3 linked regions of the Homo sapiens genome follow. The protein of the gene in region 2 interacts with the protein of the main gene of each other region in a pairwise test. Each region holds a gene or a part of one and is shown on either strand. Other genes may lie near its edges.

What was found. The genes of interacting proteins can lie anywhere in the genome.
Region 1: the proteins of BACH1 (region 2) and NR1D1 interact in a two-hybrid assay, tested with the Homo sapiens proteins (one large-scale study listed by BioGRID and IntAct).
Region 3: the proteins of BACH1 (region 2) and BATF2 interact in a two-hybrid assay, tested with the Homo sapiens proteins (one large-scale study listed by BioGRID and IntAct).

Annotation. Positions count from the first base shown.
Region 1 is NC_000017.11:40,092,293-40,094,941, forward strand, and holds the end of NR1D1 (nuclear receptor subfamily 1 group D member 1), read right to left. Parts: coding exon 2,643-2,649; intron 1,831-2,642; coding exon 1,620-1,830; intron 1,576-1,619; exon of another isoform or gene 1,091-1,575; coding exon of another isoform or gene 991-1,090; coding exon 791-990; coding exon of another isoform or gene 728-790; 3' UTR 501-727; downstream 1-500. Other genes in the region: THRA (thyroid hormone receptor alpha), read left to right, coding at 728-1,090. UniProt on the Homo sapiens protein: Transcriptional repressor which coordinates circadian rhythm and metabolic pathways in a heme-dependent manner.
Region 2 is NC_000021.9:29,301,922-29,305,421, reverse strand, and holds part of BACH1 (transcription regulator protein BACH1), read right to left. Parts: intron 219-3,500; exon of another isoform or gene 100-218; intron 1-99. UniProt on the Homo sapiens protein: Transcriptional regulator that acts as a repressor or activator, depending on the context. Binds to NF-E2 DNA binding sites. Plays important roles in coordinating transcription activation and repression by MAFK.
Region 3 is NC_000011.10:64,987,445-64,990,708, reverse strand, and holds the end of BATF2 (basic leucine zipper transcriptional factor ATF-like 2), read left to right. Parts: intron 1-431; exon of another isoform or gene 432-566; coding exon of another isoform or gene 567-635; intron 636-896; coding exon 897-1,580; 3' UTR 1,581-2,764; downstream 2,765-3,264.

The sequences.
Region 1 (2,649 bases), on a different chromosome or scaffold from region 2:
AACTCCTGCCCTGGGAACTCCTGGGCGGGGGGGAGGGGGACACTGCCCAGAGGCGCTACTGAATGTATGAGAAGCTGGTGCTGGGCTGGGGGGAGGGGGGTTGTGGCCAGAAACAGGGAAGGAGGTAGGTCTCTTCCCCAGGGAGGGGTGGGACCGGCAGGGGTGACTTGAGGGGCTCCTACTCCTGCCCCACGTTGACAATCAGTATGTCTGTTATGTGCGATTTTTCACCCCGTTGTGTTTTGGGTCAGGATTTTAAAGAAAGATATTTTTATGGTAATTGTTGCTCGTCTATTTTACTATATATTTATGTAATAAATATATGATGAAAATAACCCCCTTGGGCACCCCCCTTAGACTTGTGTGCTGTTTCCCTATATCCTCCCATCTGCTGGCAGAGTACCCACCCCACAAACTGACCAGATGGAGAGGTGGCCCCCCCCAGCCTTGGCAGTATTTCCACCCCACCCCCCAAACGAGCACACACCACAGAAGCCAGCTCAGCTGTGAACTATTGGATTTGAGACAGGAACAGAACAAATCAGAGGGCCAGGGGAGGGTTGTGGGGGAGACAGAGTGGTTTAAATAGGGGAGGAGGGGAAGTTCGGTGATGGGGGAGGGAGGCAGGTATTTACAAGAAGGCTCAGGGGGCCAGAGGCTCATCTTGGAATATTTTATAACAATATAAATAAGATTCTGGTTTGCTTTTCCTTTTCGTCTCGTAAAGGAGAGAGAAGTGCAGAGTTCGATTCTGTACAAGGGGGCAGCGGCAGAAGGCCGGCCGGGCGGGTCACTGGGCGTCCACCCGGAAGGACAGCAGCTTCTCGGAATGCATGTTGTTCAGGGTCCGCAGGTCCGGCAGCTTGAGCAGCAGCTTGGTGAAGCGGGAAGTCTCCAAGGGCCGGTTCTTCAGCACCAGAGCCCGAAGAGCCCGCAGCAGCGTCTCCTGGAGCTGCTCCACCGAAGCGGAATTCTCCATGCCCGAGCGGTCTGTGGGGAAGACGACAGCAGTGAGGCGGACTCCCCGAGCTCCTCTGAGGAGGAACCGGAGGTCTGCGAGGACCTGGCAGGCAATGCAGCCTCTCCCTGAAGCCCCCCAGAAGGCCGATGGGGAAGGAGAAGGAGTGCCATACCTTCTCCCAGGCCTCTGCCCCAAGAGCAGGAGGTGCCTGAAAGCTGGGAGCGTGGGCTCAGCAGGGCTGGTCACCTCCCATCCCGTAAGACCACCTTCCCTTCCTCAGCAGGCCAAACATGGCCAGACTCCCTTGCTTTTTGCTGTGTAGTTCCCTCTGCCTGGGATGCCCTTCCCCCTTTCTCTGCCTGGCAACATCTTACTTGTCCTTTGAGGCCCCAACTCAAGTGTCACCTCCTTCCCCAGCTCCCCCAGGCAGAAATAGTTGTCTGTGCTTCCTTGGTTCATGCTTCTACTGTGACACTTATCTCACTGTTTTATAATTAGTCGGGCATGAGTCTGTTTCCCAAGCTAGACTGTGTCTGAATCATGTCTGTATCCCCAGTGCCCGGTGCAGGGCCTGGCATAGAGTAGGTACTCCATAAAAGGTGTGTTGAATTGAACTGCGTCTGCCTCCTCCCCCGGGTCAGGCGAGAGCCTGACCTACCTGCAGAGACAAGCACCACCGCGGTGAAGAGGCCCAGCTCCTCCTCGGTAAGCGCCAGGGAGTTGAGCTTCTCGCTGAAGTCGAACATGGCACTGAGCAGGTCTCCCATGCCCATGGCACCAAGCTCCTGCAGGCTGTAGGTGGTGCGGCTTAGGAACATCACTGTCTGGTCCTTCACGTTGAACAACGAAGCAAAGCGCACCATCAGCACCTAGGAGGGAAGGGGAACAGTCATCCTGGGTGTGGTGGGAGGAGCACTGACCAAATCGCCCCTGTAGTTTGCCAGAGGGTTTAGCGGTGCTGCCTTCGATTTCTCAGTAGAGTGGGGGTTGTTTCTGAATGGCCAATGAGGGAGCCCAGGTGGAAGGATGGCTTTGGGATCCAATAAGCCTGAATCTGAGTGTCAGCTTTGTCACTACCTGTGACCTTGGGCAAGGCATTCACCAAAGTTAATCTGCTCTTGTCTAGAATGGGGGCAGCAGTGCACCCAAGGCATTATTTCAGTGTAATGGGTTGTGATTAAATTCCAGCTGAGATGACAGAAGTCCCAGCCATCAAGAGGAAGCAGCAGGAGCCGCTCAGCCCCTTTCACCAATCAGGCTATAAGGACAAAGATACTGGGTTCCAAAACCTTTCAGAGGTCCTGCCCACCCCAGACAGCAGGGCTTTCTGTTGGATCCTTCCCAAGGTCAAAAGCAGGAAGCGTCTGGGTGCAATGGCTCACGCCTGTAATCCCAATACTTTGGGAGTCCAAGGCGGGCAGATCACCTGGGGTCAGGAGTTTGAGACCAGCCTGGCCAACATGGCGAAACCCTGTCTCTAATAAAAATATAAAAATTAGCCAAGCGTGGTGGCGGGAACCTGTAATCCCAGCTACTTGGAAGGCTGAGGTAGGAGAATTGCTTGAACCCAGGAGGTGGAGGTTGCAGTGAGTGGAGATCGCACCATTGCACTCCAGCCTGGGCGACAAGCGAAACTCTGTCTCAAAAAAAACAAAAACCAGAAGCATAAACGGTCACTCACCTCAAAG
Region 2 (3,500 bases):
TTTAGAAATCTAAAAAAAAATACCTATAGTTTGAATAGCACTTGTGACAGTCTTTTACCACAAAGAGACAACGAAGTAGGGAAAGTTAATCGTAATTACATGCTCATCCCCAAGCAGCATTTCCTTTGACTTCTCTGGATGACAACTGAAACTGAAGGCATGCCAGCAAAGAATCCGAGTGAGCTGGGCAAAATGCTCTCTACTTCAACAGTCTTTTGCTAATGTGAAAGAAAAAAAAAAAAACAAGATTACAAAAGCCAAAAGCTTTTTTTTTTCTTACCTCTTTTAACCTGAATTATGACTCTTACCTAGGGGAGTACCCAAGGCCAGGCTGAGATACACCTCAGAAAAACAGTTGATAAAGAGACATCAGGTACACTGGAAATTGAAGAGGCCTGGGCCAAGATCAGATAACCACTGTACATTTTTTAAAATAATATTTAAATATAAAATACACATTAATGAAATTACAACCTAATAAATTTATTCAATCTTTTATAGCCACATATTTTATAACAAAACTGTCTGATGGATGAGCAACTGCACTAATTTAGCTGACTTCTGAAAGACGCTGGCACACTTTAGAAAATGAATAAGGCAATAAGCATGTGAAGATATCAGTAAAGAGGAAGTTGGGTGGATAGGTCGCCCTATTTCTTCAATAGGACCCTCAGGAGTTCACCTCCTTAGGACAAAAACACCTCCCTAGGGTCCTGGAGGCAGACAAATCAATAAAAAGAAGAGATAACTGGAAAAAAGGTGTGTAGGGGGAGGGAGGGACATTTCCCTTACTATACTATTTACTCTACAGCCTTAGAGGTAGGCTATTACTAATGTCCAGGCTACAAAGGAATTGAAAACCTTTTTTAGTGTAATTCCACTTTAATGAGGGATGGGGAAGTAGAGTGCAACTGTCCACTGACTGATCTGATCTAAAAAAATGATAAATTTAAAAAGTGAAAAAAACTTTACCTGAAAGAAACTGGGAATAATTAGGGGCCAGGCACAGTGGCTCACGCCTGTAATCTCAGCACTTTGGGAAGCCAAGGCGGGTGGATTGCTTGAGGTCAGGAGTTCGAGACCAGCCTGGCCAACATGGTGAAACCCATCTCTACTAAAACACAAAAATTAGCTGGGCATGGTGGGGGGTGCCCCATAATTCCAGCTACTACGGAGGCTGAGGCAGAAGAATTGCTTGAACCCAAGAGGCGGAGGTTGCAGTGACCCGAGATCGCGCCACTGCACTCCAGCCTGAGCGACAGAGTGATACTCCATCTCAAAAAAAAAAAAAAGAAAAAAAAAACTGGGAATAACTAGTTTATTACAAAAATATTAGTTTGAACGATGACTTTCCTAAGGCACTGCAAAAAGTGTTTACATTTATTTTTCAAATAACATGATCTGCACAAAATTTCAGCTGCATTAATGTAACATTTTCTAAATTGTGCCCGTACTGAGAAGGAACCAGCTGCCAGCCAATTTCACTGCATGCCCACTGTGTTTCTACACTGGTCATTAACAACCAAGATTCTGGCTACCACTATTTCTTCTTCCTCACGTTTGCTTCAGGGCAGTTTTTTATTATCCTATGAATATTTGAATATTTTCTAACCTGTCCCTGATCCTAAATAAAACAAAGAACCTGTTCTAGAGGAGTGATATTCAAAGTATTAGACATATAAGACATTTAACATCTAGAAAACCAAATTATATTTTGCTCAATTCAATTCTAATCCAATTATGGGTAAAAATAAGTCACAAGACAAGTTTTATGTCTATCTTAGGAGATGAACTAGAATTACTTAATTCCAGCTGCCTTCTCAATAATCACACCAATGATAAAAACAGAAAGTAGAAAGCTAAATAATCAAAAGAATTTCAACTCAGTGCACACTTACAAGGTACCACACACGATGTTCTCTCCTTCAATCTGTTAAACATTCCCAAGTTTCAAAATCACAGAACTAGAATGAACGCATATCATACCACCCAGTTCAGCAACCAACAGTTTATTAAAGAAACACAGCCAAGGCACATTCAGAGTGCCATAGGAGATAAAACAGAAAGACACAGATTCTCACCATCAGGAAACTTACAATCTGGCTGAAAGAATGGTCAAAATAACACAACCTTTCTGAATTACTAACAGGTACAAAAAGCTATACGATAAATATGTCCATTGTATTCATATCCATTTCATGGATAATTTTTCTGTATTAGTACAGGCATATCATCTAAAGAAAACATAATACTTAGAAGAAACTAATTAGCTTACAAATTTACATTCTAAATGTTTCCAACAAACTGGATAGGGCCCAGGAATATGTACTGAGAAACTAGTTCTGTTCTGGTATTAACAAGAAGGGAGGGGTGGACAGGTTACTAAAGCTGCCAGGCCACAATGTCAACTACAACGTGGAAAAGACTAGCCAAAGAATGGCAAGTGTTTTTATTTCGTAAAAGCCAGTTTCAATTAACTGGTTAGTGACTACCTCAAGCACTCCGCTGAGACTGTTAAGATTCCTTTAAGTAAAAAGCTATGTCCTGTGTTCGTTGCCCTCAGAAGTTGGATGTATGTTTGAGATGGTGCTACTGACTTAACATAAGAGTGTTCCCCGGGTTGTTTTTCCAGTCTCACTTGTGATCAATGCCGGCAATTCAGCTCTCAACAGCTATAAAACACTACTGTGTAACTAAGTACTTCCCTGATTCTGAACAACAGATAATAACACCTAACACTTGATGTTTCTTATAAAGCTGGCACTGTTCTAACCACTTACCCCGTATTAACGCATATAATCCTCACAACAACCTCTCTGATACAGATTCTACTATCACCACCCCTGTTTTACAGAGGAAACAATGAGGCACTAGTTACCAGGTAGAAGAGCTTGCCCAAGGCTTTAAAGTGGGTGACACAACCAGAACCTGACCTTAAGCAGTCTGGCTCCAGAACTACTTTTTAACCATTCTGCTTACTGCTTCTTTGTCAACTGTACAGTGATCAAACCCAGACTTCAGTTATGTTAGTGCACTGTGTAAGCCAGGTGCCTGGGCTTCAGGAGAGTGTAAGTCAATGTTTTAGCTGCAGTCCTGAAATGTTTACTCCCTCCAAGGGGCACGGATTCTGGCGAATTGCACTCAAATTACCCATACCTTGGCCATCGGTACATTACCTCATTTGACATATATTTTAAATCAAAACAATCTCAAAAATCATCGTTCCACCACATAAAATAAACCCTCTGTCTAGAATGCTCAGGGAATGCAGGTTTTAGGGTTAAGACAATTCTCTCATTAACAGAACATTAGTCAGAAAATTAGAAGAGAGGTGGTGATTCCTAAAACGTAAGTCATGGAGAGATCAGCACTATGAAGAGAAAATCTGACAAGTGGTAATTTTAACGGGCTTTGCAACTGTTATTCTGAGCATCACCTCTCACAGTACAGGGGTGTAGAAGGCACATGGCACATGAGATTTAACTGAATGGTAAATACTA
Region 3 (3,264 bases), on a different chromosome or scaffold from region 2:
GAAGGAAGTCGTTCAATTTATTCAGCCCTGTGAGATGTGGATATAAAATTCTTTCTGCATTTTTACCATTACTGTCATCATAAATGGTTATTTAGAACTGCACATTGATTGTGTCTCAGGGGTTCTCAGAACCGGCGTTCAGCAGAACAGAACTTAATAAATGCTGATTCAGGGATGCAGAATCGAACACACTCATGCTGTCAACCTGTAAAACAATCCCCTGAATCCTCCCACAGTGCTCGTAGGGGCGAGTTCTGGGCCCTCAAAAGGGCAGTGGCAATAAGCAATCTAGGACAGAATGACATCAAGGTTGCCACGGGAAGGCCCTGTTGGGATTTGCACAGAGAAGGGCGGCGGAAGGGTGTCCAGGCAGAGGAAACAGGAAATGTGGCCGGGAAGCAGAGTTCATGTGAGGGTCAGGAAGGGAGGGGAGCAAGAAAGAAGGCGAGAGAGAGGAGACCGGAGGTCTGAGCTGCAGCCACTACACAGGCCTGGAATTCTACCACAGGGAATTTGGTGGGTGCCTCTAAAGGGCTTTAACCTGCAATTAATGACATGGTTGCTGAATGGCTCCTGTGGGCAAGAGAATAGGTGGTTTGGGGGACACACGGGTTGGAGGCCCGTGCATATCCCAGGTGAGAAATGGCACCGGCTCAGGGCACTAGTGGTGGGATGACAGCAGGCGGATCTGAGCCCCCTTCAGAGGGTGGGACAGGGGAGACTTGGTAGGTGGTTATGAAGGGCTGGCCAGAGAGTGGCCAAGAGACCCCACTTGGCTATTCCAATGGTGGTGGCATCTTTCTCCTGAAGTTGAGGACCCTGGAAGGGGCTAAGGCTCATGCGGGGCCCCTGACACTGGCTGAGGTTCCCCTCCCCGCCCATCTGCTTCTCTGCAGCAGCACGAGTCTCTGGAAAAAGACAACCTCGCCCTGCGGAAGGAGATCCAGTCCCTGCAGGCCGAGCTGGCGTGGTGGAGCCGGACCCTGCACGTGCATGAGCGCCTGTGCCCCATGGATTGTGCCTCCTGCTCAGCTCCAGGGCTCCTGGGCTGCTGGGACCAGGCTGAGGGGCTCCTGGGCCCTGGCCCACAGGGACAACATGGCTGCCGGGAGCAGCTGGAGCTGTTCCAGACCCCGGGTTCCTGTTACCCAGCTCAGCCGCTCTCTCCAGGTCCACAGCCTCATGATTCTCCCAGCCTCCTCCAGTGCCCCCTGCCCTCACTGTCCCTTGGCCCCGCTGTGGTTGCTGAACCTCCTGTCCAGCTGTCCCCCAGCCCTCTCCTGTTTGCCTCGCACACTGGTTCCAGCCTGCAGGGGTCTTCCTCTAAGCTCAGTGCCCTCCAGCCCAGCCTCACGGCCCAAACTGCCCCTCCACAGCCCCTCGAGCTGGAGCATCCCACCAGAGGGAAGCTGGGGTCCTCTCCCGACAACCCTTCCTCTGCCCTGGGGCTTGCACGTCTGCAGAGCAGGGAGCACAAACCTGCTCTCTCAGCAGCCACTTGGCAAGGGCTGGTTGTGGATCCCAGCCCTCACCCTCTCCTGGCCTTTCCTCTGCTCTCCTCTGCTCAAGTCCACTTCTAACCTGGTCTTCGGAGCTGGGTTGGCCCCTTCTTTGGGCTCAGGAAGCAGCCTTAGCACACGGGCCTCTCCTCCCTCACTACTGGGTGCTGCCCTGCGTGGCTGACCAGCTGGCCCAGGATTTCACAGTCGAAAAGGAAGCCACCACTGATGCCTCCCACTGTGACAGGCCCTGTCACCACCAATATCTTATTTCAACCTCACAGTTGACCTGAGAAATCGAGATTATCACTCCACTTTTTCAGACAAGGAAACTGAGGCTCAGGGAAGCCAAGTGACAAGTCCAAGGTCACGAAGACTTTCTTGGAGCCCGAAACACCACCCTCTGCTCCTCCTTCTCCTGTCCTGGCCCAGGCATCCTAGGGGCTGAAATCCTGGAAACCGTGGGCTGGTGTGAGAAGGTTTGCATGCTCAGAGCAGAGAAGGGCTCTCCCCACTGCTTCGTGATTCCAGGGCCAGAGCCATGCAGTCCCAGAAACCCCAACCTAGCTGGGGCAGGTCCAGAGTCCAAGCCCTGGTGGGTAGAGGCCAAGCAGAAGCCCTGAAGTGGACTCTTGCTTCCCCTAGTAGTGTTTTCAGTGCCAAGAAGCTGAAACTGTGAGCTGGAGTTGGGGAGAGGTCTGGAAGAGGACCATCTGGGATTTCTACAGCCTGGGTACCCATAGCCACACCAAGGCTTCTGGGAGATTCTGCAGGGTCAGCTTTCCAGGCTGTTCCCAAATAGCTCCCTGCCTCCCCACTGCCCCTAAAGCCACAGCAGAAGAGCCATTCATCTCATAAACAAAAAGGAAGAGGAAAGAATGAGGAAGGACCCTGTGCAAGGTTATTTGCAGGCAGGGATGGGCTTGTACCTGACAGCACCCACCCCTGTGTGGCCCCCAGGCCCTCATCACCCTCAGACCCCTCCTAAGCAGTTCCCTCATTGCTCTTTGGACTAGGCTGACAGCAGGAAGAGCAGGGCCCATGACCGGGTGGAAGTTCAGTTTTGGTGTCTGCTTCAAGAGGGGGTTTTACACTCTGATTCCAGGACAAGCACTCTGAGGCGGGTGGGGGAGAGAAACCCTGGCTCTTCACCCAGGTTTCACACACATGTAAATGAAACACTATGTTAGTATCTAACACACTCCTGGATACAGAACACAAGTCTTGGCACATATGTGATGGAAATAAAGTGTTTTGCAATCTTTTCTGCTTTGCCTAGTTACTTAAACCTCTCTTTGTAACCTACAGAGTCTTTGAAAAAAGAGAGAATAACAGAGATGGGCAACCCCTCATGAACCAGCTAATTAATCTCCCTCCAATACTACAGATGAGGAAACTGAGGCTCAGAGATGAGACGGACTTGCGCAGGTGTATTAGTCAGTGTTCTCTAGAGAAATAGAACCAATAGAGTGTGTGTGTGTGTGTGTGTGTGTGTGTGTGAAGACAGAGAGATTTTTTTTTTAATGTTGTTTTTTTTTTGAGATGGAGTTTCACTCTTGTCACCCAGGCTGGAGTGCAATGGTGCAATCTCGGCTCACTGCAACCTTCGCCTCCCGGGCTCAAGTGATTCTCCTGCCTCAGCCTCCCAAGTAGTGGGGATTACAGGTGCCCACCACCACACCCAGCTAATTTTTTCCTTTTTTTGAGACAGAATCTCGCTCTGTCGCCCAGGCTGGAGTGCAGTGGTGCAATCTCGGCTCACTGC